Linked DNA regions of Homo sapiens: region 2 is reported to be linked to region 1. The links are microRNA targets in miRTarBase. Many come from high-throughput screens and were not tested one by one. Region 1 holds a microRNA gene; the other region holds the end of a gene's coding sequence.
What was found. The annotated mature microRNA hsa-miR-4324 reads CCCUGAGACCCUAACCUUAA and lies in region 1 at 8,908-8,927, shown strand. An mRNA with a match to its seed (bases 2 to 7 or 8) in the 3' UTR can be bound and repressed. Matches are read on the target gene's strand: a 7mer-m8 pairs with bases 2 to 8, a 7mer-A1 pairs with bases 2 to 7 and ends in A, and an 8mer does both.

Region 1 (15,719 bases):
CCTGGGTTCACGCCATTCTCCTGCCACAGCCTCCCGAGTAGCTGGGACTACAGGCGCCCGCCACCATGCCCGGCTAATTTTTTGTATTTTTAGTAGAGATGGGGTTTCACCATGTTAGCCAGGATGGTCTTGATCTCCTGACCTCGTGGTCCGCCCGCCTCGGCCTCCTAAAGTGCTAGGATTACAGGCGTGAGCCACGGCGCCTGGCCTATTTGTACAGTTTTGTAGTGTTTTTGTGGAGGTAACTCCAGACACTGTTTTGCTTTCATGGTCAAAAGTGGAAATTTCTTCTCCCCATTTTTATCTGGATCCTGTATATCCTTCATTTCTATGTTTTCTTAAAATTATCTTTTAATTAATTAATTTTATTTTATTATTATTGTTATTATTTTTGAGATAGGGTCTTACTCTGTTGCCCAAGCTGGAGTGCAGTGGTGCAATCTTGGCTCACTGCAACCTCCCCCTCCTGGATTCAAGTAATTATCTCACCTCAGCCTTCCGAGTAGCTGGGGCTACAGGTGTGTCCCACCATGCCTGGCTAATTTTTGTATTTTTTGGTAGAGATGGGGTTTCACCATATTGGCCAGGCTTGTCTTAAACTCCTGACTTCAAGTGATCCTCCTGCCTTGGCTTCTCAAAGTGCTGGGATTACGGGCATGAACCACTGCACCTGGCCTATTTTATTTTATTTTTTTAGAGAATGAGGTCCCACTCTGTTGCTCAGGCTGGAGTTCAGTGGTGTGATCATAGCCCACTGCAACCTTGAACTCCTGGGCTCAAGCGATCCTCTCCACTTAGCCTCCCAAATAGCTGGGACCACTGGCGTGTCCCACTATGCCTGGCTAATTTTAATTTTAATTTTTTTTTTTTTTTTTTGGTAGAGATGGGTTTTCACTGCATTGTCAAGGCTTATCTTGAATTCCTGGCCTCAAGTGATCCTCCTGCCTTGGCCTCCCAAAGTACTAGGATTACAGGCATGAGCCACTGTGTCTGGCCTATCCTTCATCATTCTTGTTCTTGTATTGCTCAATTTGGCTTTACTCACAGGAATTTCTCCTCATTGTGGCCTCTGGGTTGGAAAAGATCCCTGGTTGGTTAATTTTAAGAGTTCATAGAATCTAGTCTGCCCTGGTCCCTTCAGTTTCTATTGTTGACTCCATGCACTCAACTGTTATTGGATTAGGCAAGACATCTTCTAGTTTTAGCTGCTGTTCTCTAATAGCCTTCCCATGATTTCTGGTGAGTACCTGTTGATTATTTTGAGAGACTGGTTTCCCTGTCCCCCATCCCCAGGTCTGTCAGATGCTCTCTTGCTTCCTTTGTTTCCTCCCACACAGATGCTGATTCTATACAGGTCTGTGGCTCTTGTGGTTTGTTCTCATAGACTTGTCTTTTGGGGTTTATCTTGATATTGTAAATATTATCCATGGATTTTGGGCTTGCAATCTAGTAGAACTACTTGTTTTCATGTGAGTATTTGGGAAGATTTTAAAACAATGTTGCTGTTATTGCCATTACCTTCCCAGGATTTTACTCTATATTTAAAAAATTATTTTATAAGTGGCATTATTATTTTAAAATTTTATTTTCTAATTATGTATTGCAAGCATAGACATATAAATAATTTTCATTTATTGCTGTTTGCATCCAACAATCTTGCTAAATTATCTTATTAATTTAAATAATTTATCTGTAGTATTCTGGATCTTCCACATAGATATATCATCTGTGAATAGTGAGTTTTGTTTAATCTTTGTCTTTTATTCCCCTTGCTTTCCTGTGTTGTCTAAAATATTTAATGCAATGGGAAGGAAGTGCTGATAGCTGGTTTCATTGATTGTTCTTGATTTCAAAAGGCAAGCTTTCTTCACTTCATTATTAAATATGTGCCTATGTTTAAGCATATGTTCACTATTAAGTATAATCTTTTTTTTTTGAGAGACACCATTTATCAGGTTAGGGAAATTATTCCTGGTTTGCTAAAAGTTTTTCTCCGTAAATCATCATTGTATTGTATGTTTTTCCTATATCTCTTGAGATGATAATATTTTTCTTCTTTATTATATCAATGTGACTAATTATATTGATTTTCTCTAGTGGTATGCTTTGAATCATCTCTACTGAGTTTTTTGCTTTGTAGTTACCACGAAGCTTACATAAAACATCTCCTGCCTCAGCCTCCCAAAGGGCTGGGATTACAGGCATGAGCCACCATGACCAGCCCCAAAGGCTGGATTTTTGTACCTAATTTTTTCTTCAGCCTTTTCTTCCCTGCATGATTTTCTGCTTCTCTCTTAATGTTATGGAAGCATCATTTGTCTCAGGGAGACGCCCATCAACCCACCAATAACTCCAATAAATCCAATAACAGAGGAGTGGCCCACCTGCTGTTGCATTCTCTGGCATACAGCTTCTGGAAGCTGTTGGTTCACTGGAGCAGAAGGTCTTTGGCAAGTGATTGTTTTTATTTCCCACAAGTTGCTGGGAAAGTATTTACTTACTTCCTGAAACACTGAACCACTTCATCAGGAAAAAGAGATGTGAACTGACTCCTCAGTGATTACAGTTTGGTCCTGTTTCTTGTTTATGTAGCAGAAGTTTCTCTGTTTTTGACATGAGGATGGAACCTATTTTTCAGAAATGATGCAGATATCCCCATATTTGTAATATTTTAAAATCATTGGTTTTTTTTTTTGTTGGGTAGGGGGAGATTGTGGGTAAGTTTGGAGATTGGTGTTCATGTGGCTATCTTAGAAGAAACTTCCTTTTGTTTTGATGGTGAATTGTAGGAGTGGCAGGTGCTTGGAAGTTTAAAAAATTTAACAAAATTTTGACATAATTTCAGACTTACAACACTTCCATCTTTCCTTGTCTTTATTGACTGTGACATTTTTACTGAGCACAGGCCAGCTATTTTACAGAATGTACTTCAATTTAGATTTGTTTTCTGGTGTTTCCTCACGATTGGAGTTTTGTTACATGTTTTTGGCAGGAATCCCACAGAAATGATGTTGTGCTCTTAATGCATTGTATCAGGAGTTATATGATATCAGGTGACTATTATTGGTTTAGGTAGTGTGTAATACTCTAAAGATACTAGTTTCTTGGGTTTTTTTGGGGGGAATATCTTGTGGGGAGATACAGTAATACTATGCAATTATCCTGTCCCCATCAAATTTTCATCATCTTGTTTTAGCAACCATTGATGATTCTTGCTTGTGTCAGTTATTACTCTGGTAATTTCCAAACAATGATTTGTTAAAAAGACATATTTATTGAGGGATGATTGACAAGTAAAAAACTGTACATATTTCATGTGTACAACTTGATTAGTTTATGATAAGCAGTGACCTTCTAATTCATCGTTCCTTGTACATTTATTAGTTTGTATTCTACTATAAGGAAGAGGTTTTCCTTTTCCTGAGTTGTATCCCTGTGGATTCATGGATTCTTGTTTTAGTCTGTTGGTTCTCATCTGTTACTATTCTTTATTTTGATGTTCTGATTTGTCCAGATTTCGCTGATGAGAGCTTCTTCAATTGGATTTCTTTGTCCATTATGATCTTTTTATTTTCACTTATCAATACATATTTTTTCTTGATTATGATTATGATTATGATTATGATTTTTTTTTTTTTGAGACGGAGTCTCACTCTGTTGCCCAGGCTGGAGTGTAGTGGCGTGATCTCAGCTCACTGCAAACTCCGCTTCCCAGGTTCACGCCATTCTCCTGCTTCAGCCTCCTGAGTAGCTGGGACTACAGGCGCCCGCCACTGTGCCTGGCTAATTTTTTGTACTTTTAGTAGAGATGGGGTTTCACCGTGTTAGCCAGGATGGTCTCGATCTCCTGACCTCAGGTGATCCACCCACCTCGGCCTCCCAAAGTGTTGGGATTACAGGCGTGAGCCACTGTGCCCGGCTGATTATTATTATTTTTTTGAGACAGAGTCTTACTCTGTCACCTAGGCTGGAGTACAGTGGTATGATCTTGGCTTACTGTAACCTCTGCCTCCCGATTCAAGTGATTCTCCTAAGTCAGCCTCCCTAGTAACTAGGATTACAGGTGCCTGCCACCATGTCCGGCTATTTTTTTTTTTTTTTTTTTTTTGCATTTTTAGTAGAGATAGGGTTTTGCCATGTTGGCCAGGCTGGTCTCAAACTCCTGACCTCAAGTGATCCGCCTGCCTTGGCCTCCCAAAGTACTGGGATTACAGGCATGAATCACCATGCCTGGCCGTATTTTTATTGATTATTAAAGTAATACAGGTGAGTGGGGAATGGTGGCTTGTGCCTGTAATGCCACCTACTCTGGAGGCTGAGACCGGAGACTCACTTGAGCACAGGAGTTCGAGGCCAGCCTGAGCATCATAGTGAGACTCCCATCTTGAAAAAAACTTTTAAAAATTAGCTGAGTATGGTGGCACATGCCTATAGTCCTAGGTACTTTGGAGGATAAGGTGAGAGGATCCTTTGAACCCAGGAGTTCAAGGCTGCAGTGAACTGTGGATCATGCCACTGCATTCCAGCCTGGGTGACAGAGTGAGAACCTGTGTCTGAAAAAAAAGTAATACAAGATTTTAAAAAATTTAATGTAAAAGCAGGGATAAGGATATAAACATATTTGTAGCCATCATCGTCTTTTTTTTTTTTTTTTTTTTTTTGAGACAGGGTTGCCCAGGCTGGAGTGCAGTCGTGCGATCTCGGCTCATTGCAACCTCCGCCTCCTGTGTTCAAACGATCCTCCTGCCTCAGCCTCCTGAGTAGCTCAGATTACAGGCGTGAGCCACTGCGCCTGGCCTGATCATCTTCTGTATATTGATGTATTTCCTTTCAGCCTTTCATTGCATTTTTAAATGTAGTAGAGATAGAACTAAAGATAGAAATTTGTATCTTAGTCTTATGTTTTTAACCTGTAATTGAATTATAAGCATTTTCTTGTGTAACAAAGAGCTCTTTGGAAGCTGTGTCTCACAAGCAGTTATCCATGTCACCCAAATGTGCCAGTGCTGCCTTGAAGCCCATCTACTGCCTCTGCTTTTGGAAAGCATGCTCCTTCCCCCACTGAAAGAAAACTCCAGTTTCCCCTCTCTCTTCCTCTCTTTCATGTAACTTTTTTTTTTTCAGCACACTCCTTGCCTTTTCTCTTGTATTTGAAGAGCCAACAGAAGTTCAGAGTGGCGGGAACTTGGAGAATAAGGAGGAGAATAGCCCTAGATGTGAGGTAGAACACCATCCTTTTGCTGGAGATAGAGCAGTAGGCAGAGATGGACAATGAATAAATTAACAATCAATAGATAATAAAGTCAGGAGATGAGAAATGCCATGAAGTAAAGAGAGTTGTGGGTAGGTAGCTGCTATTTTAGATAGGTGGACAGGGAAGGCATCTCTGGTGAGGCTATATTTGAGCAGAGATCTGAGTGTTTTACAGATTAGAAAGCTCAGAAAGGTAAAGTAACTTTTCTAAGGTTACAAGGCAGATTTAGTATTAAATTAGTTTAGTTTAGTTTAGTTTTGTTTTTAAATTCAGAAGCCCTCTGTAAATAGTACTTCAGTGTTCTTAGAAATCCTTTTATTTCAGGCTGGGTGCAGTGGCTCACACCTGTAATTCCAGCACTTTGGGAGGCTGAGGTGGGCGGATCACTTGAGGTCAGGAGTTCAAGACCAACCTGGCTCTACTAAAAATACAAAAATTAGTCAGGTGTGGTAGTGGGCGCCTGTAATCCCAGCTACTTGGGAGGCTGAGTCAGGAGAATCGCTTGAACCCAGTAGCTGGAAAAAAAAAAAAGAAATCCTTTGATTTCAGGGATTCCTGACTCTTGGGTATGTCTGTCTCTATCCCTATCCTGTACAAGAAAACATTTCTTTTTTTTTTTTCTTTTTTTTTTGAGATGGAGCCTTACTCTGTCTCCCAAGCTGGAGTGCAGTGGCCTGATCTCGGCTCACTGCAACCTACGCCTCCTGGGTTCAAGCGATTCTCCTGCCTCAGCCTCCCGAGTAGCTGGGATTACAGGTGCCTGCCACTATACACAGCTAATTTTTGTATTTTTAGTAGAGACGGGGTTTCACCATGTTGGCCGGGCTGGTCTCGAACTCCTGACCTCAGGTGATCCATCTTCCTCGGCCTCCCAAAGTGCTGGGATTACAGCGTGAGCCACCACGTGAAAACATTTCTAAGAAGTGAAACTTATGCAAGAGATTTTTTTGTGCTTTAAATGTCAGTGGTGGTATAAAATTTGCTTTAAGGAGATGTTGAGGATTGTTTTGTAACTCAGTAGTTACTTGACTCTAAAATCTAAAATCTACAGATTTTGGTGTCCTTCAGGTCTCCTCAGGAAGATGAACCCTCCCTTGCAGAAGCGGGAGCTGCCCCAGAGAGTCTGTGTGAGATGAAGACAGAGGCCCAGCCTTCGACATCCTTGCTGGCAAACACCTCATGGACTGGCACAGTGATTTCTGACAGTGTCCCAGGAAGTCAAACGTGGGAAGACAAGGGTTCATTGACCCGGTCTGCAACATCTTGGACCTCAGAGGCCCAAGTTTCAGCAGCCCGGGTTGCAGAGGCTCAGGCCAGGACCAGTCAGCCCAAGCAAATTTCTGTATTGGAGGCGTTAACTGCCTCAGCCCTGAACCAGAAACCCACGCATGAGAAGGTGCAGATGACAGAGAAGAAAGAGAGTGAGGTCCTCCTTGCCCGTCCGTTCTGGTCCAGCAAAACTGAGTATATTCTGGCTCAGGTGGGCTTCTCTATGAAGCCATCTTGTCTCTGGCGCTTTGCCTACCTGTGGCTTAACAGTGGAGGCTGTAAGTCTGGGGACCAGGAAACCTGGGTCCACAAGGGGCAATCAGGACAGAGTCCTGTCCAGGCTTTAACCATGAATGTTTCTGAGATATGTAGAGACTAAAGACCTGGTGCTCTGAGCAGGATAGGAGCCAGGTCCCTGGACACTTAGGATCATGAGAGGTTCAGGGTATCTGAACATGGGGATGGCAAAGCTGGAGGCCTGGGCCCAAGATGGGCTGGAAACTAGGTACTTGGGTCTTCCAGGATTTGGGGGCCAGAGGACTGGACACTTGGGACCGTGAGGGATGTAGACATGGGTGAGCCCTGATGCCTGTGGCCCTGGAAGAGGTCGCTGGTAGGGAGAATGTTTTCCTGGGCTCCTGGAGTCCAGGCACTGAAAGGCCACATGGTTCTCAGAGTCCCTTCTGAATCTTCTTCACAGGCAGTTTCGCTGCCATCTACATCTTCATGCTGTTCCTGGTCGGGGTTCCTCTTCTCTTCCTGGAGATGGCAGCTGGTCAGAGCATGCGTCAGGGTGGCATGGGTGTATGGAAGATCATTGCCCCCTGGATTGGTGGTGTGGGGTATTCTAGCTTCATGGTGAGGAGCCCATGGCTGCCCAGGCCTGACTTTTACACCCCACCGCCATCCCAACCCTCCTCCTGAAATGCGCCCTGTGAATACCTCCATGGGTCAGATCCCTTTGGTTCCCCAATCCTCTGTCAAATCCCCTCCCTTTTCCTGTCCCTGCTCTTCCTCCCCAGCCATATCCTCCTTGGCCCCCAGGTGTGCTTCATCCTCGGCCTGTACTTCAATGTGGTCAATTCCTGGATCATCTTCTACATGAGCCAGTCCTTCCAGTTTCCCGTTCCATGGGAGAAATGTCCCTTAACGATGAACTCTAGTGGCTTTGGTGAGGAGGAAGTGAAAGAAGAGGAGAAGGGAAAAATGGAGAAGTAGAAGTAGAAGGGAATTTGGAATAGGAGAGAGTGGGGAGGGACAAGGAAGAGGAAGAAGAAGGAAAAAGAAATGGGAGAGGGAAAGAGAAAAGGGAGGTGGGGGAGGGGATAAGGAAGAAGAGGGGGTACCTTGTCTAGCAGGCATGTCTAAAGCCAGGTCCCCCCAGATCCTGAATGTGAACGGACAACACCCTCCATATACTTCTGGTACCAGCAGGCCTTGAAGGCCTCAGACAGAATCGAGGATGGCGGGTCACCAGTCTACAGTCTGGTCCTGCCCTTCTTTCTTTGCTGGTGTCTTGTTGGTGCTTTCATGATCAATGGGCTCAAGTCCACTGGGAAGGTGAGCCACCAGTATTGGATTCCTTGAAATTCTCAGATGCTTTAGCCCTTACCTCAATTTGTTACTTGTTGATCTCCTAATCTCTTACTCCTTTGGCTTTTACTCCCCTAGCCCCTGACTCTTGCTGAAGGCTTTCTTCTAACTCCTACTCATTTCTGACTCAGAACTTTTGATCCCTCCTAACTGTTGGTTGACCCCTACTGGTACACGGTTGCTGATATGTCCCACTCTCGATTCAGGTAATCTATGTCTTGGTACTGCTCCCCTGTTTCATCATTGTCGGTTTCTTCATCCGGACTCTACTCCTGGAAGGGGCAAAATTTGGCCTTCAACAGTTGGTGGTTGCCAAGGTGAAATCTATCTCCTCACTCCCCCGTCAGGCCTTGTAGGGCACCACAGCTGCCTATTCTTAGAGCTTCCTTTCCCCATTCTTTACTTTTGTATCTCCCTCTCTCCTCCCTGCAACATTTCTATTATAGTTGTCCTCTGCTTCTTCTTTTACAACCCCCTTATGCTTGTCTTCTCTCTTTTAGATATCGGATGTGTACAATATGAGTGTGTGGTCTCTAGCAGGGGGTCAAGTTTTGTCTAACACAGGCATAGGCCTTGGCTCCGTTGCCTCCTTAGCCTCCTACATGCCCCAGTCCAACAACTGTCTCAGTGATGCCTTTCTCGTGTCTGTGATAAACCTGCTCACTTTGTTGGTTTTCACATCTTTCAACTTCTGTGTCCTGGGCTTCTGGGCGACAGTCATCACACATCGCTGCTGTGAGAGGTAAGGCCGGCCCCTTTGTTAAGGGTCTCAGCTCCAGGGAACTTTAAAACCCTGAGACCCTAACCTTAAAGGTGCTGCAAAGACCCATGTTCACACATTTCAACCTTGGGTGCACTTGCAAGCCCTCTACCTTCCCCATAGCTAAAAATGGAGACAATAGAATCTCCTATCATATATTATCCTTCTCAGAGCCTTTTGTCACCCTAGAAATAAATCTTCAAACTCAGAGATTGCCAGCTATCCACCTCAGAGTGGATATGCTAACAGGGATGTACTAAAAATTGCAAACATTGAAGGCTTCTCTAATCCCAGATACACAACAAAATACCATCCAAGACCATACCACACAGAGACTTCCAAGGCCATCCTTGGAAAAATGGAGAAGTAGAAGGCCCCCATTATTTTATTTTATTTTTATTTTTTGAGATGGAGTCTCGCTCTTTCACCCAGGCTGGAGTGCAGTGGCGCGAACTTGGCTCACTGCAAGCTCTGCCTCCTGGGTTCAAGCCATTCTCCTGCCTCAGCCTCCTGAGTAGCTGGGACTACAGGTGCCCATCACCAGGCCCGGCTAATTTTTTTGTATTTTTAGTAAAGACAGGGTTTCACCATGTTAGCCAGGATGGTCTCGATCTCCCGACCTCATAATCCGCCCGCCTCAGCCTCCCAAAGTGCTGCGATTACAGGCGTGAGCCACCGCGCCCTAAGGCCCCCATTCTTAACTGTTAACTCCTGAATTGGGGATTTCTGTCAATCTAGCAGAAACTCCAAAAGGATTCTCTGTACTAGAACCTTGATTGTCTGATCACCCCTGTTTCTTATTTTTCTTATTTTTAGGCATTAATTCCAAAAACATCCATCAGACAGACATTTAGGAAGTGTTCTTTCTATACAACAGAGACTTGGACAGGTGAATCAGACCACAGTCCTTGTTTCATTAAGTTTTCAATTTTGGAGGGGGAAGGAAAGGAGAATGAGACAGCCAAAAACTTGTGCTAACTGGTAACTGAAGTGATGGGTGAGGACAGGAGACAGAGCCATTAATTCTGTCTGGACTAGTCAGATGGGGCCTTCCAGAGGAGGCAACCCTGAGTTGAATTTCTCCCAGTAATCTTTTTTTTTTCTTTTTCTTTTTTTTCTTTTTCTTTTTTTTTGCTTCCTCCTCCTCTTCCTCTCTCTCCCAGCAGATTTTTTTTTTTTAATTTAAATTTTTGAGAACAGGGTCCCACTATATTGCTCAGGCAGGTCTTGAACTCCTGGGCTCAAGCCATCCTCCTGCCTCTGCCTCCCAAAGAGCTGGGATTACAGGCGTGAGCCACCGCGCCCGACCTCTCCTAGTAACCCTAACCCTCACAAATAACCACCATTTTCTTCTAGAAGATGCCTGGGAATATACATGTGTGCGTGTGCAAGAGTTCTTGACAGCATATAGTTAGGAAAGGAATTGCTGAGTAGGGTGTGCTCCCCTTCAATTTTATCATATATTGTCTGGTTTTCAAAGTGGCGTAATGCATTGCCCTCCCATCAGGGATGTGTGAGACTTCCATTTGTTCTACTTTTTGCACAACACTTGATTAAACTTGGTTGGACTTTTAAATTGTTTCCAGTCTGGTGGGAGTGTAATGGTAGTTTTTTTGTGTATTTTCAAAAAAACCTTTTATTATGAGCTATTACCTACATATGGAAAAATGCATAAAACAAGGCCGGGAGCAGTGGCTCACGCCTGTAATGCCAGCTCTTAGGGAGGCTGAGGTGGGAGGATTGCTTGAACCCAGGAGTTTGAAATCAGCTGGGCGAGACCCTTCCTCTAACAAAAAAAAAAAAAAAGTGTATAAAACAATGCACTGTGTAACGAACCGTGAAGTAAACATCACCTGTATTAAGAACTAGAATAACCCTAGATGCTCTCTGTGTATCTTTTTCTAATCATAATCTCTTTACTGCCTCCCAGAGGTAACCATCATAAAAGTCAGGATAGTGGTTACTATATTGCTTAGTAGATACGCATACATAGATGATCAAATGTAAAGAAAAACAAGCCGGGTGCGGTGGCTCATGCCTATAATCCCAGCACTTTGGGAGGCTGAGGCAGATGGATCACGAGGTCAGGAGTTTGAGACCAGCCTGGCCAATATGGTGAAACCCCATCTCTACTAACAAATACAAAAATTAGCCGGGCGTGGTGGCACACACCTGTAGTCCCAGCTACTCAGGAGGCCAAAGCAGGAGAATTGCTTGAACCTGGGAGGTGGAGGCTGCAGTGAGCTGAGATTGTGCCACTGCATTCCACCTGGGCAACAGAGTGAGACTCTCTCTCAAAAAAAAAAAAAAGAAAAAAAAAAAACAAAGAACTAAGGATAGTGATTAATGTTTTTCTTTATATTCTATCATCTATGTATGCATAGCTAAGCAATATAATTTGTCCACTTATATAAAGCAATATGTTTAGTTATTTGTTCCCTCATATATACATTCTCTTTGCTTACTTTTGTGCTTTCTTTTTCTCATCCAACATGTTTGCAATATTTATCCATATTGTGTATAACTTTAATCTGTGCTCTTTCTTTTTCTTTTTTTTTTTGAGACAGACTCTCGCTCTGTTGCCCAGGCTGGAGTGCAGTGGTGTGATCTCGGCTCACTGCAACCTCTGCCTCCTGGGTTCACACCATTCTCTTGCCTCAGCCTCCCAAGTAGCTGGGATTACAGGTGCCCACGACCATGCCTGGCTAATTTTTTGTATTTTTAGCAGAGACAGGGTTTCACCGTGTTAGCCAGGACGGTCTCGATCTTCTGACCTCGTGATCCGCCCGCCTCGGCCTCCCAAAGTGCTGGGATTACAGACGTGAGCCACCACGCCAGGCCTAATCTGTGCTTTTAAAATGCTGTATAATGTTTCAGTATATGAATATACCACAGTTTTTAAAAATCCATTCAACTATTGATAACATTTGGAGTCTTTCCAGTTTTATGCTATTAAAACAATGTTGCTGCAAACATTCTTATGCATGTTCCTGATGTACTACATATGTGCACATTTTTCTGGGATATGAGTTAGATTGTTGGGGCATAGTTGTCTATTCTTGGGTAACAAATCACTCTGGAAGTAAATGGATTAAAACAACAATGATTTATCTCATGATTCTGCGGGTTGGCTGGAAAGCTCTTCTGCTGGGCTTGTATGGGTTCACTGACATGGCTGCATTTAGCTGGAGGGTTGGCTGGGGGCTGAGCCCAGCAGGGACGGCGCTGCTCACTGCTCTTCTTCTTCTTTTTTTTTTTTTTTTTTGAGACAGATCTTTGCTTTTGTCACCCAGGCTGGAGCGTAATGGTGCAATCTCGGCTCACTGCAACCTCCGCCTCCCGGGTTCAAGCGATTCTCCCGCCTCACCTTCCCGAGTAGCTGGGATTACAGGCACCCACCACCACACCCAGCTGATTTTTGTATTTTTAGTAGAGACGGGGTTTCACCATGTTCACCAGGATGGTTTCAAACTCCTGACCTCAAGTGATCCACCCACCTTGGCCTCCCAAAGTGCTGGGATTACAGGCGTGAGCCACCACACCCAGCCGGCACTGCTCTTCTTTAAGTGGTGGTGGCTGGGTTCACTCCTGTTTGTAGTCAGTTGGCTGGCCAGCAAGGGCTGCTCTCTTCCATGAGGCCTCTCCATGGGGCTAGTTTGGTCTTCTTCACATGGTAGCTCACAGAGCACAAAGGCAGACTCAGCAAAGTGTCTTGAAGCGAAGTATAGGACTGCTTCCATTGCTGCTACATTTCTTGGTTGAAGGAAGTAAAAAAGCTACCCCAGATTCCAAAGGTGAAAAATAGACTTTACCTCTTAATTGGAGGAGCTCCAAAATATTGTGGCTGTATTTATTCAATCTACCACATATATCTACAACTTCACAGATGATGCCAAATTACTTTCCATAGTATCTGTGCCAATTTATAATTGTATGTATATGAAATGTGTGTATGGAAGTTCTCATTACCTCACTCGTGCAAATACTTGTATTGTCATAGTTTAAAGCAAAATGTGTGGTCAAGTTCATTTTTGCCCATTTTAAAAAAAATATTGGATGATCTATCTTTTTCTATGGAGTTCTTTATATGTTCTGGATATGTAGTCATTTTCCAGTTGTATATATTAAAATTCTTTTCTCTCACCTGGTGGAGTGCATTGAACATCCCAGGTTCAAGCGATTCTCCTGCCTTAGCCTCCCGAGTAGCTGGGATTACAGGCATGTGCCACCACGCCTGGCTAATTTTGTATTTTTAGTAGAGACGGGGTTTCTCCATGTTGGTCAGGCTGGTCTCGAACTTTCGACCTCAGGTGATCCGCCCACCTCAGCCTCCCGAAGTGCTGAGATTACAGGCTTGAGCCACCACGCCCAGCCAACAAAGGTTTTTAAAGGAAAAAAATGAGGAGGATAACATAATTGTTTTGAAATAATTTTCCTTGACTACAGAGATCGATAACAAGGGTGACACCAGTCCAAGATTGGATAGGCGTTTGTTGGGCAGATGTTTCTGCAGGAATATTTTGTGTGTGTAAGGTTGCAGTGGCCTTTATGCGTGGTTATAGTTTTTGTAGTTGTTTTTCTAATCAGACATACAAGTGTGAGAACCCTCTCTTTATGGCCTTCCTTGACTCAATTTGCTAGGGCTTTCTTAACATTAGTGACTCCATTTTATTCTGATAACGTTCACATTTCCTCTTTTAATCAAGATCTTTCTCCAAAAGCATCACTGATCAATCATTCATATTTGGGTTTTCCTGTCCCTCAATGTCATGATGGGCCTGTCCCAGTTGCTGGTCTCATGTCACATTGAGGGGAATGATGGGTGACTTGGAGTCAGTGTCAAACTCTTGTAGCCACATTTGAGCAACAAGGGACATTTGAAGGGGGTATCTCTTAGGCTAAGTCTATCTGAGGTCCATTATGAAGTTCAATTTTGTCTGTTCCATAGTCTTTTGTTATCATCTCAAAGTGTTTGGCTGGGCCAGCATTATTTTGTTAGGAGTTGTACTTCTGTAAAAATTTAACAAGTGACAGATACAAAGTTTTAAAAAGGGCAAATATAAAGTAAAATTAATAGTAATATGATAATAGTTTTGTGCCCCAAACCTTATCACTTGTATAAATCAAATGACTGAAGGGCGTTAGATGAGACCAGTTCTAATGGTGTGGCTTTTTTTCTTTTTTCTTTTTTCTTTTTTTTTTTTTGAGACAGTCTCACACTGTCACTCAGGCTGGAGTGCAGTGGCGTGATCTCAGCTCACTGCAACCTCTGCCTCCCGGGTTCAAACAATCCTCCTGCCTCAGCCTCCCAAGTAGCTGGGACTACAGGTGGGCGCCACCATGCCCAGCCAATTTTTGTATTCTTAGTAGAGACAGGGTTTCTACTAAACCCTATACTGGCCAGGCTGGTCTTGAACTCCTGGCCTCATGATCCGCCTGCCTTGGCTTCCCAAAGTGCTGGTATTACAGGCATGAGCCACCCTGCCCGGCCTACATACTTTTTAAAGTATTCTTGGTTGTCAGATTTTTTTTCAGCACTTTGAATATATCATCTTACTCTCTCCTGGACTGCAAGATTTCTGTTGAGAAATGTGTCGATACTTGTACTGGGGCTCCCTTATATGTGATATGCTTTTCTCTTTCTGCTTTCAGAATTCTTTGTCTTCAGTTTTAAATAATTTGTTTATAATATGTCTCAATGAACTCTTCTTTGGGTTGAATTTTATTAGAGACCTCTGAACTTCTTGTACCTGGATGTTTGTATCTTTCTCCAGATTAGGGAAGTATTCAGCTATTTTTAAAGATAAACTTTGTCCTTTTCTCTTCTCCTCTGTAAATCTTGTTATGTAAGTGTTCTCTTGATGGCCTCCCATAGATATTGTAGACTTTCTTTGGTTATCTTCATTTCTTTTTCTTTTTCTCCTCTGACTGGATGATTTAAAATGATGTCTTTGAATTTGCTTATTCTTTCTTCTGCTTTTCTAGTCAGCTGTTGAAGCCATCTATTGTATTTTTTGTTTATTGTTATTCTTCAGCTCAAAAATGTTTGTTTGGTTCTTTTTCATATTTTCAGTGCCTTTGTTTAGCCTCTTCTTTCGTTGTTCTATTGTTTTCCTGATTTTGTTAAATTGTTTTCTCTGTTCTTTTATAATTGACTGAGATTCTTTAGAACCATTATTGTGAATTCTTTGTCAGGCAATTAGTGGATCTGCTATTCTTTGGAGTCAGCTAATGGAAGTTTATTGTTTTCCTTTGGTGTTATCATGATTCTCCAATTCTTCATGATTTTTATAGTCTTGAGAAAAGCATTTGAAGAAGCATTAACTTCAAATGCTTTTTTTGGGGAGAAGAGTGGTGCTCTCTGGCACTGGGTCCAGTGGCACAGAGTGCCAACTGTGGGTGGGGGTGCGTGTGGTGGGTCCAGGTTGGAGGGACACAGAGTCTTGTTAGCACAGGCAGCTGGGGGCTGTGATGTTGATACCTGCATGGTCCTTGGTGGCAACAGCTGTGGGAGGTCCACAGTGGCTGTGAACCTCCCACAGAGTTTTCTGGGACCTCAGCTGTGCCTCTTGCCTAGCATCTAGGGGCCAGGACTCGCAGCAGTGGAGGCTGGGGTCAGTGGTGTGCACACACTCTGCTGCAGAGGCTGGCTGTAGGCACAAGCATGGCAGCAGAGGCTAGTTGCAGGCTCATTAATGGTGGCAAGGGGTGGAGTCAGAGGCAGGGGCTGGGGTTGACTAAGGGCATGCATGTGGCAGTGGGGCCTGACAGCTTGTGCCTAACTGCAGGGGCCTGCTGCAGTCTGGCCACAGAGGTCAGTCCATCTGCATGTACGTGGGCAGT
Region 2 (15,719 bases), not on the chromosome of region 1:
GGGAGCATCACTTGAGCCAGGAGGTCGAGGCTGCAGTGAGCTGAGATTGCATCACTGCTCTCCAGCCTGGGTGACAGCAAGAACCTGTCTCAGAAAAAAATAAAAAATCAGAGAAGTCATAGAGTAGGTTGTTTGGGAAACAAAGGCAAATGACCCCAATAAAGGTTCCTGGCAGCTCTAGCCTGCGGAGTTTATGACATTCCCAGCAAGCTGCTCTCTATTCTACAGAAACCTGGTGATTAACTGGCCTATTTGGAGGATTCTTTCTGTATCATAAATAGGATCCCAGCACTTTGGGAGGCCGAGGCAGGAGAATCACTTGAGCCTAGGTGTTTGAGACCAGCTTGAGCAACATAGTGAGACCCTATCTTCACAAAAAGTAAAATATTAGCCAGGCGTGGTGGCGCTTGCCTGTAGTCCCAGCTACTCAGGAGGCTGAGGTGGGAGGATCACTTGAGCCTGGGACGGGAGGTCAAGGCTGCAGTGAGCTGTGGTCATTCCACTAGGCTCCAGCCAGGGCGACAGAGCAAAACCCCATCTAAGAAAAGGAAGAAAAAGAAAAAGATTTCCCTGAGTGCAACCACATTATATTCTAACATGTTGATTTCTTTCTGTTTCTAGCTGATTATATAGTCATGCAGTTTGGACGTGTGGCAGATGACGTGTTCACACTGGATTACAACTACCCACTTTGTGCAGTACAGGCCTTTGGCATCGGTCTTTCTAGCTTTGACAGTAAGCTGGCGTGTGAATGAGAGAACAGTCAGGCAGGGAGCCCTTCTCCCCACAGAGCTTTCAGGAGCAGACAGTGGCCTCCCCTTCCCCTCCCTGCCCCAGGACTTAAAGAGCAATAGTTTGCCCCTTTTGGAATGATCTCTGAATATATAAAACACACACACAAAGAGCAATAGTTTGCCCCTTTTGGAACGACCCCTGAATATATAAAACACACACACGAAGAGCAATAGTTTGCCCCTTTTGGAACGACCCCTGAATATATAAAACACACACGAAGAGCAATAGTTTGCCCCTTTTGGAACGACCCCTGAATATATAAAACACACACACGAAGAGCAATAGTTTGCCCCTTTTGGAACGACCCCTGAATATATAAAACACACACACACCCCGCGCACTCTCACTCCTTTTCCAGGTTTCATAGACTTGGTGAGGGATCACAGCTTAGCATGGGTGAGAGATGATTTAAAGCACAGGGAGATTCTTGTCACATTGGGGTCTCCAAAGCTAGAATGGGATTTCATGTGCTTGGAAACTTGCAGTAGAATCAGGGACTGACATCGCAGTTCCTCTCCTCTCTTCATTCCCTCACAGCAGATTGGCCGGCACCAATCTTAGTCAAGAGTGGCTGTGATCACATTTGTGATCAATTATGTGAGAATTTTATATAATTGTCTTCATTTCAATTAAGGCTGAAAGCATAAACTCTAGAGGTGACTCAGTCAGGACTGACAGTAATGTGATAATTGCCTTCATTTTCAACCCAGGAGTGCCTCTCACAGCTATATGACTACGGATCCATTAGTGAGGAGCGACACACACACCTGTAGGCATCCTGTGCAAACACTTTGTCATTATCAAGAGAGATGGCAGTATTGACCATTTAGTTTAGTTAAAAAAAAAAAAAAAAAGGTGGCAGGAGAGGCTTTGGGGAGGATCAGCCAGCAGACATGAGCACTGCTGGCCCGTGTGGCAGAGCTGTGGACTTTCTTCTCGGCTCCCTCAACCCTGGCTCAGGCACAGAAGGTGTTTTGCTACGTTTTTTTGATTATTACACCCCTCCACGTATTATGTGACTCTTACACCAGTTCACCCTTCCCAGAATGTATCCAAACCTTGAGAATGCAGGAGCTCTGTGAGCTCCACCGTCAGCACCATTCAGCTGCATCCCTTGTGCACAGAACTGTTTGCCAGCGTTGGGTGGGACACCCGTGGCGGCTGCTCCCTCAGACCTCCCTTCTGTGGACTGACCTCTCACCTCCGCCTGTTGTTCCTGCACCACATCAGATAAGCATGTGAAGGAGGGCCAACTGGCAGCTGCGGGACCCTTGGCTTGTCCCCCACCGACAAGTCCCACCTGCTGGGTGAGGACGAGACTGTTTCCATCTCAGGCATGTATCCCACCAAGTGCCTCCCTCACAGCCATGCCCAGAAGCCTCACACCTCGTCACCACCACCACCCCCCACCCCATCCTGAGGCACTGCCTGGCAGATAACCCTGGTTGGCCACAGAAGCTATTAATACACGACAGCATGTGGGGAAGGACTTATGGTGGGCCAGGTGGACCTCATCCTGCTTCTTCCTCCCTCTGGTTTAAAGAGATATATAAACTAATTTCACATAATTTGTGTGTGCAGGTGATTGGTTTTTACATAAGTCCTATTTATACCTTTTATATGTTACAGAAATAAAAGTTAATTTATATAAAAATGTGTCACTGCCTTTGCAAGTCCTATGCCTCAGGAAGTTCCTACTGTCATGTTATATAATCATAATTGTCATCTTGGGCCACGTGCAGTGGCTCACGCCTATAATCCCAGCACTTTGGGAGGTTGTGGCAGGCGGATCACCTGAGGCCAGGAGTTGGAGACCAGCCTGGCCAACACGGCAAAACCCTATCTCTACTAAAAATACCAAAATTAGCTAGGTGTGGTGGTGCATGTCTGTAATCCCAGCTACTCAGGAGGCTGAGGCATGAGAATCACTTGAACCTGGGAGGCTGAGGTTGCAGTGAGCAGAGATCACACCATTGCACGCCACCCTGGGCCACAGAGTGAGACCCTCGCCTCAAAAAAAGAAAAAAAAATGTTTTGGTAACACATCAGTTCTGTAAAACCAGGTGATTACTAACAAACTTCTCATCCTGATGTAGAGCAGGAATCTGCAGACTAAGAAGGCTGTGTTCCGGAGGCTACCTAGACACACTATACACATGATAGCCAGGGGCATCTGGACAGAGGACGGGACCGAGAGCTGAGCTTAGCAAGGCCACAGAGGGTAGAGTGTACATTCTTTGCATGCCTGCCCAGGTCCGCTTCCCAGGTTTGTTCTTGTTGGCATTGTTTACTGGTTCAGCAGCAACACAAATGAACTATCTCATAGACCCCATCGCTTGCCTCTGAATGTTAACGTTTTGTTTGTTTTTTGAGACGAAGTCTTGCTTTATCACCCAGGCTGGAGTGCAGTGGGCATGACCTCGGCTCACTGCAACCTCTGCCTCCCAGGTTTCAGCAATTCTCCTGCCTCAGCCTCCTGAGAAGCTGGGACTACAGGCGTGCGCTACTACACCCAGCTAATTTTTGTATTTTAAGTGGAGAAGAGGTTTCACCATGTTGGCCACGCTGGTCTCGCCTTGGCCTCCAAAAGTGCCAGGATTACAGGCATGAGCCACTGCACCCGGCCTTTTTTTTTTTTTTTTTTTTTTTTTTTTGAGACGGAGTCTGGCTCTGTTGCCAGGCTGGAGTGGAGTGGGGTGATATTGGCTTACTGCAACCTCTGCCTCCTGGGTTCAAGCAACTCTCCTGCCTCAGCCTCCCGAGTAGGTGGGACTACAGGCGTAAGCCACTGCGCTCGGCACCCCCCCCTCCTTTTTTTTTTTTGAGACAGGGTCTCCTGTTGTCCAGGCTGCAGTGCAGTAGTGTGATCTTGGCTTACCACAGCCTCAACTTCCTGAGCTCAAGGGATCCTCCTACCTCAGCCTCCTGAGTAGCTGGAACTATAGGCATGTGCCACCAAGACTGGCTAATTTTTTGTATTAAAGTACAGACAGGGCTTCACTGTGTTTTTCAGGCTCGAACTCCTGGGCTGAAGTGAGCCTCCCACCTCGGCCTTACAAAGTGCTAGAATTACAGGCACGAAATACCATGCCCGGCCTTCACATTTTTAAGCTGCCCTATGTTCAGAAGTTGAAAAAAAATGCTGGGTGTGGTGACTTATGCCCAGCACTTTGGGAGGCCGAGATGGGAGGATCATTTGAGGTCAGGAGTTCCAGACCAGTCTGGCCAACATGGCAAAACCCTGTCTCTACTAAAAATACAAAAATTACCTGGGTGTGGTGGCGGGTGCCTGTAATCTCAGTTGCTTGGGAGGCTGAGGCAGGAGAATCACTTGGACTGGGAAGGCAGAGTTTGCAGTGAGCCAAGATTGTGCCACTGCACTCCAGCCTGAATGCGACTCTGTCTCAAAAAAAAAAAAAGTGTCCACAAAGCTTTCCTAGGCTTTCTGGCTCTTATCAGCATCACAGTGATGAACACATGGAAAGAAGCAAGAAGAGCCTAAAAATCAGGACAAGAGCTGGAGTCGATTCTTACAACTTGATTTTTCCTTTTTTATTTTTTTAGTCTTCCACATGCACAACATGTATTTTCTTTTTCATATGATTCTTTTTGGCTAAGGTGCATGGGTGGCCAGTTTTTCTGTTTTTTTTTTTTTTTTTGAGACAGGGTCTGGCTCTGTTGCCCAGGCTGGAGTGCAGTGGTGTGATCTTGGCTCACTGCAACCTCTGCCTCCTGGGCTCAAACCATCCTCCCACCTCAGTCTCCTGAGTAGCTGGGACTACAGGCATCCACCACCCCCAACTAATTTTTTAATTTTTGATAGAGACAGGGTTTCACCATGTTGCCCAGATTGGTATTGAACTCCTGGGCTCAAGCGATCCTCTCCCCTTGGCCTCCCAGAGTGTTGGGATTACAGGCATGAGCCACCGTGCCTGGCCCAAATAGATTCTTTGTGACACAGTTTTGTACACTAGTGATCAGGGACATACTGGTGGGCATTGACATGAAAGATTTCAGCAAGTGTCAATTACAAGTCTAAAAACAGGCCTGCAAAAGGCTCTTTTTGATCAGTTTAATAGATCATAGAAGAAATGAACTAGCATCAATTCATTTCCTTGAGATCAGCATTGTAAGTGCAGAAATAAAGTGATGGTTCGACTAAGGCAAAATCTTCCTGGGTTCTGACCCTATTTCTGCCAATGATTTGCCATGTGCCTCCTTTATAGATTGAGAGACTTTGAACTACGTGCCCTTTTACATTCTTTTTTTTTCTTTTTCTTTTTTTTTTTTTTTTGAGACAGAGTCTTGCTCTGTTGCCCAGGCTGGAGTGCGGTAGTGGGATCTCGGCTCACTGCAAGCTCCGCCTCCCGGGTTTACGCCACTCTCCTGCTTCAGCTTCCCGAGTAGCTGGGACTACAGGCGCCTGCCACCACGCCTGGCTAATTTTTTGTATTTTTAGTAGAGACGGGGTTTCACCGTGTTAGCCAGGATGGTTTCGATCTCCTGACCTCATGATCCGCCCGCCTCGGCCTCCCAAAGTGCTGGGATTACAGGCGTGAGCCACCACGCCCGGCTACATTCTTGAATTACATGTTTCTCCCCACTCATGCTGACAACACTCTGGCATTCCCCTGTTTTGAGCTGAACTCACTGGTTACCCCTGGACAGCTTCATGTTCATGGCTCATGTTCATTAGCTCTGTTCATGGCTAAGGACGGCTAGCCTGAGAGGTGACACAGAGTTCAGGGAAAGCACAGATTGCCTCAGCGAAGGCACCATGGAGAGGAGACCGGAATTGTGGAAGAAACAGGATCGTGCACTGAGAACTGTCCTCTTTATTCTACCAAGTACGATTTATTAGCCAAGTTGACATTTGTCGATTTGGTTATAGTAACTCTTACAAGCAATTCTTAAGACACACACACAGCTTGCTCCTGAACTCCAGCATGTTGCAAGCTGCGTTTTTCCTCGGCCTCCAGCTCCTGCCCGGGAACTGTCTGCACGTCTAACACCTGCTTCTCTTCAGTCCACAGCTCTCTCAGCCTGGCCCACGCAGGCCCCAGCCAGGGGCATGCCAAGGACTTGGCAGTTTCTGTGCCACCTCCTGAGACACGTTTCCTGACCACTGGCATAGTGGATCATTTTGCCTCCTTTCCTGCTTACGTCTCCTCGTTATCACTGTCGATGGATATGCTTTAAAAGTCTCACAGTCTTTTTTATCAACCAATAGACTCCCCTCATCCACTAAAAGCTAAGGCTGCCACAAATGAAGGGGTGCAGTGAGAACGGCAGATGGTTCCATGGCGCCACCCACTGTCCAGGAATGCATGTTGCAGGTGCGTTAAACGGGCAGACCCCGCACAGGTGAGGAAGTCACCAGGCGAAAACAGCAAGCCGACCACATGACCATGCAGTTACCAAGCACCTCGTGTTAGACCATGGCTCTCTTCTGAAAGCCTGAGAACACTAATATTTCTGGAGTTTAGAAACTAGTTAAGGTGCCAGGCGCGGTGGCTCACGCCGAGGCGGGAGGATGACGAGGTCAGGAGATCGAGACCATCCTGGCTAACACGGTGAAACCCCGTCTCTACTGAAAATACAAAAAATTAGCTGGGCACGGTGGTGGGCGCCTGTAGTCCCAGCTACTCGGGAGACTGAGGCAGGAGAATGGCGTGAACCCGGGAGGCGGAGCTTGCAGTGAGCCGAGATGGCGCCACTGCAGTCCGGCCTGGGCAACAGAGCAAGACTCTGTCTCAAAAAAAAAAAAAAAAAAAAAAAAAAAAGAAAGAAACGAGTTAAGGTATTCTAGGTAAAATGCCCAGGATCTGGCCGGCACAGAATAAACACTAAGTATAGTGGCAGATATCTATATTATCTTTTTTTACTTTGAGGCAGGGTCTCACTCTGTTACCCAGGCTGGAGTGCAGTGGCATGATCTCACTGCAGTCTTGACCTTCCCAGGCTCAAGTGATCCTTCCATTTCAGCCTCCGGAGCTGCTGGGATACAGGCATACAGGCGTGAGCCACCACGCCCAGCTAATTTTTTTTTTTTTTTGTATTCTGTAGAGATGGGGTTTCATCATGTTGCCCAGGCTGGTCTTGAACTCCTGGGCTCAAGCAATCCTCTCACCTCAGCCTCCCAAAGTGCTGGGGTTACAGGTGTGAGCCATTGTGCCTGGCCATAATTTTTATTAATGTTCTTTAAAAATAAAACAATGAGCTCGAATGGTGGCTCGCACCTGTAATCTCAGCACTTTGGAAGGCTAAGGTGGGAGGATTGCTGGAGCCCAGAAGTTCCAGACCAGCCTGGGCAACATAGGGAGACCCCATCTCTACAAAAATAAATTAGCCAAGCACTGTGGCACGAGCCTGTAGTCCCAGCTACTCGGGAGGCTGAGGTGGGAGGATGGCTTGAGCCCAGGAGGCTGCAGTGAGCCAAGATTGTACCACTGCACTCCAGCTGGGCAAAAGAGTGAAACCCTGTCTCTAAGAAAAAACTTAACAGAACAATTATCTTCTTAGCCACGCACTTATAGAGAATGGCTTATACATGTTTATAAAGCAAATTTAGATGGTTTTTCAGAGACAATAGGAGAGGACAGAAGCACAGCACGGTTTAATCAGGTTACTCCACACACCAGTGCTAGCCCAGCCCTGATCCTACCTCCCTTTCCTCACTTTGTACCCATCTCTCTTGTTTTTACTTGAAGTAACTGCCTGTACAAATATTAGCCCTGATGTTGTTGGAAATTTTTGAAGTATTTCAAATACAAAATGGGCCTCCAAGATTCTTTATAGATGGGCCTTGTCTTTTGGTCCGTCAGGCCTGAGCCCCAACACGGCTTTGGCCATGACCAAAGCGGGGTAAAGCTGGGGGCTTAGGTGGGGGCAGGCTTTTTCCTGGTCTATCACCAGCCTTTACTATACCTCTTTGGTTTAACATTGGGGCTCTCAAGCCACAGGGTTTAACATCTAGTTAAGCACTTTCTACCTAGATTCTGCCCCTTGTCATGAATCTTAAGTGTTTCAAGAATAATTATGCAAGGCCGGGCGCGGTGGCTCACGCCTGTAATCCCAGCACTTTGGGAGGCCGAGGCGGGCGGATCACGAGGTCAGGAGATCGAGATCATCCTGGCTAACACGGTGAAAGCCCGTCTCTACTAAAAAATACAAAAAATTAGCCAGGTGTGGTGGCGGGTGCCTGTAGTCCCAGCTACTCGGGAGGCTGAGGCAGGAGAATGGCCTGAACCCAGGAGGCGGAGCTTGCAGTGAGCCAAGATCGCGCCACTGCACTCCAGCCTGGGCAACAGAGCGAGACTCTGTCTCAAAAAAAAAAAAAAAAAAGAATAATTATCCAGCAGTTCTCTTTCTTCCGTAGTTTGGGAGTAGGAAGATTAGGAAGGAAGAATGGTTTGAGGAGAAAGGAGGGTGACAGGCAGAAGAGGGCTAGGAAGTAGAGCAGCATTTTTAAAGTGTGTCTAGGCCGGGTGTGGGCGCGGTGGCTCACACCTGTAATCCCAGCACTTTGGGAGGCCGAGGCGGGCAGATCACTTGAGGTCAGGAGTTTGAGAGTAGCCTGGCCAAAATGGTGAAACCCCATCTCTACTAAAAATACAAAAATTAGCCAGATATGGTGGCGCACGCCTGTAATCCCAGCTACTCAGGAGGCTGAGGCACAAGAATCACTTGAACCCGGGAGGCGGAGGTTGTAGTGAGCCAAGATTGCACCACTGCACTCCAGCCTGGGTGACAGAGTGAGACTGTCTCAACAACAGCAACAAAAAAGGTGGGTCTAAGTTCCATTTCCAAAGTACTGATGCATACTTAGGACAAACCATACCAGGCTAAAGTAGAAAGTGACCTCGAAAAAGGTTTCCTGATTTTTGCCTTTGGTCAGTCGTATGTTGTTCTATATCAGCTATTTTTTTTTTCTTTTTTCTTTTTTTGAGTCAGAGTCTCGCTCTGTCGCCCAGGCTGGAGGGCAATGGCGCAATCTCGGCTCACTACAAGCTCCGCCTCCCGGGTTCACGCCATTCTCCTGCCTCAGCCTCTTGAGTAGCTGGGACTACAGGCGCCTGCCACCACGCCCGGCTAATTTTTTTTGTATTTTTTTTAGCAGAGACGGGGTTTCACCGTGTTAGCCAGGATGGTCTCGATCTCCTGACCTCGTGATCCACCTGCCTCAGCCTCCCAAAGTGCTGGGATTACAGTCGTGAGCCACCGCGCCCGGCGTATATCAGCTATTCAGAGAGATAGAGGTACATAAATGTAACCTTTGGGCCAGGTGTGGTGGCACACACCAGTAGTATTTCCAGCTACTTGGGAGGCTGAAGTAGGAGGATTGCTTACGTGTGCTAGGATTGCACCACCGCACTCCAGTCTAGGGATAGAGCAAGACCCTGTCTCAAAAAAACAAAAAAAACAAAAAACAAACACACACACACATGATTAATGTACAAATTGCCTATCTACAGGGGACTAGTTAAAAACACTAAGGTAAGGCTGGACACAGCTGGCTTATGCCTGTAATTAATCCCAGTACTCTAGGAGACCCAGGCAGGAGTATTGCTTGAGCCCAGGACTTTGAGACCAGCCTGGGCAATATATCAAGACCCTGTTTCTACAAAAAAACAAATAAACAAACAAAAAAAAACCACACAACACTTTTTTTTTAAATCAGCCAGGTATGGTGACACATGCCTGTAGTCCCAGCTACTCAGGAGGCTGAAATGGGAGGATCACTTGAGCTGGGGAGATCGAGACTGCAGTGAGCCATGATCACACCACCGCACTCTAGTCTGGGCAACAGAGAGAGACTCTGCCTCAAAAAAAAAAAAAAAAGAGGAAAAAGCCCACTAAGGTACTTCCCACAATGGAATACTGTGGAGAATCAACAAGTATGAGGAAGACTGTATTGATTGATGTGGAAATGTCTGCAGGATCCATTCCGTGAGAAGTAAGCTAAAGAACCACGTATACAGTATGCTTCCTTTTGTGCACAAAGGGTGGGAAATTGCAAGCCCATTATTATTTTTGCATAAACACTGAAAAACTGGAAACTAAAAAGTGGGTTAACTATAGGAGCAGGACAGGGCACAGGAAGGCAAGACAGATGTGGGAGGAATCCTTTTCTTTTTTTTTTTCTTGAGACAGTCTTACTTTGTCACCCAGGGTGGAGTGCAGTGGCACAATCACGACTCACTGCAGCCTTGACCTCCTGGGTCCCAGTGATCCTCCTGCCTCAGCCTCCTGTGTAGATGGGACCAGAGGCACATGCTACCATGCCCCAGTAATTTTTGTTGTTGTTGTAGAGATGGGGTCTCACTATGTTGCCTAGGCTGGTTTCCAACTCCTGGACTCAAGTGATCCTCCCACCTCAGCTTCCCAAAGTGCTGGGATTCTAGGCATCCACCATCATGCCTGGCCAGGAGGAATCATTAAAAAAGAAGTTTTAAACCATATGAAATTACTACTATTAAATAATTTATTATTATTATTATTATTATTTTTGAGGCAGAGTCTCACTCTGTGGCCCAGGATGGAGAGCAGTGGTGTGATCTCGGCTCACTACAACCTCTGCCTCCCAGGTTCAAGCGATTCTCCTGTCTCAGTCCCCTGAGTAGCTGGGACTACAGGCATGTGCCACCACGCATGGCTAATTTTGTATTTTTAGTAGAGATGAGGTTTCACCATGTTGGCCAGGCTGGTCTTGAACTCCTGACCTCAAATAATCCACCCTCCTTGGCCTCCCAAAGTGCTGGGATTATAGGTGTGAGCTATCACACCAGGCCAATGAATTTTTGAGAATGGTTTCGTTTTGCTGACCAGACTGAGTGCAATGGTGCAATCATGTCTCACTGCAGCCTCAACCTCCTGGGTTGAAGCGATCCTTCCTCCTCAGCCTCCCAAGTAGCTGGGACAACAGGTGTGTCCCATTAGCCACCACACCAGGCTAATGTCATCTTAATCCTCTTCTTTCTCATTCTTCACACTTAGTAACTCCCATAAGTTTACACGTTTACACTTGCTTTCTCCCACAGTCCCACATTTTTTTGCAAGCTCTGCAAGTGTTATCCAGTTGTTGCTGGGCATCTCCCGCTGAGATGGTGCACAGCTGTGCTGGCCAACATGTGGCTATTTACATTCAAATTCATTCAAATTCAGTTCTTCAGTCAGGCTAGCTACATTTCAAGTCCTCAGGCTAGTGACTACCACAGTGGACAGTGCAGATGGAGAACATTTTTCTTTCTCTCTTTTTTTTTTTTTTTGAGATGGAGTCTCGCTCTGTTGCCCAAGCTGGAGTGCAGAGGTGCGATCTTGGCTCACTGTAACCTTCAGCTCCCCAGTTCAAGCGATTCTCCTGCCTCAGCCTCCCGAGTAACTGGGATTACAGCTGTGTACCACCACGCCCGGGTGATTTTTGTATTTTTAGTAGAGACAGGTTTTTGCCATGTTGGCCAGGCTGGTCTCGAACCTCTGACCTCACGTGATTCACCTGCCTCAGTCTCTCAATGTGCCGGGATTACAGGCATGAGCCACGGTGCCCAACTGTTTTGTTGTTGTTTTGAGACACAGTGTCATTCTGTTGTCCAGGCTGGAGTGCCGTGACGTGATCTCAGCTCACTTCAACCTTTGCCTCCCGGGTTTAAGGACTTCTCGTGCCTCAGCCACCCAAGTAGCTGGGATTACAGGCATGCTCCACTGTGCCCGGCCGAGAACATTTTCATCATCACAGAAAGCTGTGTTGGAAAATGTTAGTTGGTCTACAGAAATCTCAACTTCAGGTTCCCAAGCTAACTATCTTCTTAGCAATTCTGCTCCTGTGTTCCACTCGTAGCAGCCTGAGAGGCAGACATCATGACTCCTCTGTTTTCCACACATTCAATAAATGTGGAGTGAAAAAATGAGTGATGAGGAACCGAGGCTCACTTAGTAGGTGGCCAAGCTGGAATTTAAACTCTGACTGTTTAACGGCCCGACAAGGTCATCGCACACAACTTAGTGCACTCTCATTTTCAGAATATTTTATCAAACAGGATTACTGAAGATGAAGATTTTAGCTGAGCGAGATTGGAGAAAGCCTTTCCTTCCTTTTGACTTTTTTTCAGGAAGCTCCTGGATAGCTGAGGATAAGACCCCGTAGGAACTTCACCCTGCTTGAGAATTGTGCAGAGAAGGCTTCCACCTCTGTGCAATGGAAACCTGTTGTTTGTTTCAGTTTGGAAATATAAATACACTGAATTAGTCAGCCTGGACTGCCATAACAAAATCCACAGACAACAGAAATGCATTTCTTACAATTCTGGAGGCTGGAAGTGGAGGATGCTGGTGCTGGCAGGTGTGGTCTCTTCTGAGACCTTTCTCCTTTTCTCCCCCTGTGTCCTCACATGGTCATCCCTTGGTCTGAGTGTTCTGTGTCCTCATCTCTTTCATGAGGACACCAGTTACACTAGATTATGGACCACCCTAATGACCTCTTGCTAATTTAGTCACCTCTTTAAAGGCCTTATCTCCAACACAGTCACGTTCTGAGGTACTAGGGGTTTGGACCTCAACACACAAATTTGGAGGGAAACAATTTAGCCCACAGCATATACTGTTCCCTAGACAGTGGACCTAGGGTCTGTTCTCTTTCACATTTCTTTTTTTTTTTTTTTTGAGACAGGGTCTTGCTCTATTGCCAGGTGGGAGTGCAGTGATACAATCATGGCTCACTGCAGCCTCGACCTCCCAGACTCAAGCAATTTTCCCACCTCAGCCTCCCAAGTAGCTGGGACTACAGGCACATGCCACGACACCCGGATAATTTTGTTTTTATTTTTTGTAGGGATGGAGTCTCCCTATGTTGCGTGGGCTGGTCTCGAACTCCTCGCCTCAAGTGATCCTCCTGCTGCAGCTTCCCAAAATGTTGGGATTACAGTTGTGAGCCATTCCGCCTGGCCTACATTTGCCTTTCATGAAGACATAATAGAATGAATAGTATGCTTATCAAATTATTGACTACTTTTATTCTATAGACAGTTGGGGAAAACAAAAACAAAAACAAAAAAAAAACCTTTGATAAAGATCCGTTTTGCCTAGGTGAGAGGATAGCTTGAGCCCGGGAGGTCCAGGCTGCAGTGAACCATGATCCTGCCACTGCACTCCAGCCTGGGTGACAGAGCGAGACTCAGTCTCAAAACAAAACAAGGCCAGGCGCAGTGGCTCACGCCTGTAATCCCAGCACTCTGGGAGGCCGAGGTGGGCAGATCATGAGGTCAAGAGATCGAGACCATCCTGGCCAACATGGTGAAACCCGTCTCTACTAAAAATACAAAATTTAGCTGGGCGTGATGGCAAGAGCCTGTAATCCCAGAACTTTGGGAGGCCAAGGCAGGTGGATCACCTGAGGTCAGGAGTTTTGAGACCAGCCTGGCCAACATGGCAAAACCTCATCTCTACTAAAAATACAAAAATTAGCTGGGCATGGTGGCGAGAGCCTGTAATCCCAGCTACTAGAGAGGCTGAGGCAGGGGAATCGCTTGAACTCGGGAGGTGGAGGTTGCAGTGAGCCGAGATCGCGCCACTGTACTGCAGCCTGGGAGACAGAGCTCTCGCTCAAAGAAACAAAACAGGCTGGACGCGGTGGCTTACGCCTGGAATCCCAGCACTTTGGGAGGCCGAGACGGGCAGATCACAAGGTCAGGAGATCGAGACCATCCTGGCTAACATGGTGAAACCCGTCTGTACTAAAAATACAAAAAATTAGCTGGGTGTGGTGGCGGGCGCCTGTAATCCCAGCTACTTGGGAGGCTGAGGCAGGAGAATCGCTTGAACCCGGAAGGTGGAGGTTGTAGTCAGCCAAGATCGCGCCACTGCACTCCAGCCTGGGTGACAGAGCGAGACTCCGTCTCAAAAAAAAAAAAAGAAAAAAAAAGAAACAAAACAAAAAACAGGAAATGGTCTGTTTTGTCCTTCAAAGCACAAAATGAAGTTCAGCTGATGTCAAGTGAACATTCTCTTAAGGAAAAAAGTAAATAAAAGTATAGGATGGGCCGGGTGCAGTGGCTCACACCTGTAATCCTAGGACTTTGGGAGGCCAAGGTGGGCGGATCACTTGAGGCCAGGAGTTCAAGACCAGCCTGGCCAAGATGGCAAAACCCCATCTCTACTAAAAAAAAAAAAAACATAAATAAATAAATAAATATAGGATGGAGAGGTTAAAAAAGAAAAAGCACCTGAGTCACAGCTGACCAGCAGGAGTCATTGCATAATACTTTCCAAGGTATGGGGAGCAGCTTTGGGGAAATCTCCAAAGCAAGATGTGGCCCGGCACAGTGGCTCACACCAGTAATCCCAACACTTAGGAGGTCCAAGGCAGGAAGATGGCTTGAGGCCAGGAGTTTGAGACCAGCTTGAGCATATAGGGCAATCTTGTCTTTACAAAGAAAAATTTTTTTAATTAGTCAAGTGAAGTGGTGCACACCTGTAGTCTCAGCTACTTGGGAGGCTAGGGTGGGAGAATCACTTGAGCCCAGGGAGTGAAGACTGCCGTGAGCCCTGATTGCACCACTGCACTGCAGCCTGGGCAACAGAGCGAGACACTGTCTCAAAAATAAAAAAAAAAAGAAAAATATTTGCCTTTCACCTAAAAGCTAGGAAACAATCTCTCTTTACTCTGTCAGTTTCCTATTAGGCCATTCAATCCAGCTGTCAGTTGTTTGTTTGGTGGGAATGGTTTGATTTACTGGGGAAAAAAGTTTCTAGAGTTGTAAACTGGCAGTCAGCAATAGTTGAAACAAATATGTAGGATAATGAGTGGATCGATAAGAAGTCTAGAAGACTTACATGGTGGCGTTTACTCAGAACCTATTCATTGAGTTCTTCTAATCCTATATAATCTCTTTGCTACCACCACCAGCTTTATTGAGGTATAGTTAACAAATAAAAATTGTATATATTTATGGTGTACAATGTGCATTTTTTTTTTTTGAGACGAAGTCTCGCTCTGTCGCCCAGGCTGGAGGGCAGTGGCACAATCTCGGCTCACTCTGCCTCCTGGGTTCCATGGTTGGCCACGCTAGTCTCGAACTCCTGACCTCAGATGATCTGCCCACCTTGGCCTCCCAAAGTGCTAGGATTACAGACTTGAGCCACCGTGCCTGGCCACATTTTTTTTTTTTGAGACGGAGCCTTGCTCTGTCGCCAGGGCTGTAGTGCAGTGGTGTGATCTCGGCTCACTGCAACCTCCGCCTCCCAGGTTCAAGCGATTCTCCTGCCTCAGCCTTCCAAGTACCTGGGAATACAGGTGCGTGCCACCACGCCCAGCTAATTTTTGTATTTTTAGTAGAGACGGGGTTTCACCATGTTGGCCAGGATGGTCTTGATCTCTTACCTCGTCATCCGCCTGCCTCAGCCTCCCAAAGTGCTAGGATTACAGGCGTGTGCCACCACGCCCAGCCTTTTTTTTTTTTTTTTGAGATGGAGTCTCACTCTGTTGCCCAGGCCGGACTGCAGTGGTGCCATCTCGGCTCACTGCAAGCTCCGCCTCCCGGGTTCACACCATTCTCCTGTCTCAGCCTCCCGAGTAGCTGGGACCACAGGCGCCTGCCACCACGCCCGGCTAATTTTTTGTATTTTTAGTAGAGACGGGGTTTCACCGTGTTAGCCAGGATAGTCTCGATCTCCTGACCTCGTGATCCGCCCGCCTTGGCCTCCCAAAGTACTGGGATTACAGGCGTGAGCCACCGCGCCTGGCCTTTTTTTTTTTTTTTTTTTTTTAATGGAAGACTTCACGAATTTGTGAGCTCGGGGCCATGCTAATCTTCTCTGTATCAGTATCCAATTTTAGTATATGTGCTGCCCAGGCAAGCACCACAATGTGATATTTTCATATGTGTAAAGGGTTTTGTTTTTTAAAGATGTGGAGAAATTAGGGAAGGGTT

Region 2: miRTarBase lists TULP3 as a target of hsa-miR-4324. Seed matches in the 3' UTR shown: 7mer-m8 at 2,124-2,130.

The regions. Positions count from the first base shown.
Region 1 is chr19:49,302,015-49,317,733 of GRCh38, reverse strand. MIR4324 (microRNA 4324) reads left to right here and starts at 8,866; the gene lies at 8,866-8,937. SLC6A16 (solute carrier family 6 member 16) reads left to right here. Exons shown (of 12, transcript NM_014037.3): 2 at 6,323-6,801; 3 at 7,224-7,381; 4 at 7,568-7,694; 5 at 7,908-8,083; 6 at 8,323-8,433; 7 at 8,617-8,858. The coding sequence starts at 6,387. RefSeq lists a silencer at 3,921-4,143.
Region 2 is chr12:2,938,690-2,954,408 of GRCh38, forward strand. It overlaps TULP3 (TUB like protein 3), which reads left to right. Exons shown (of 11, transcript NM_003324.5): 11 at 622-2,449. The coding sequence ends at 755. It also overlaps the pseudogene RNU6-1315P. Among named protein-coding and RNA genes, the nearest start is that of TEAD4, 13 kb to the right of the region's middle.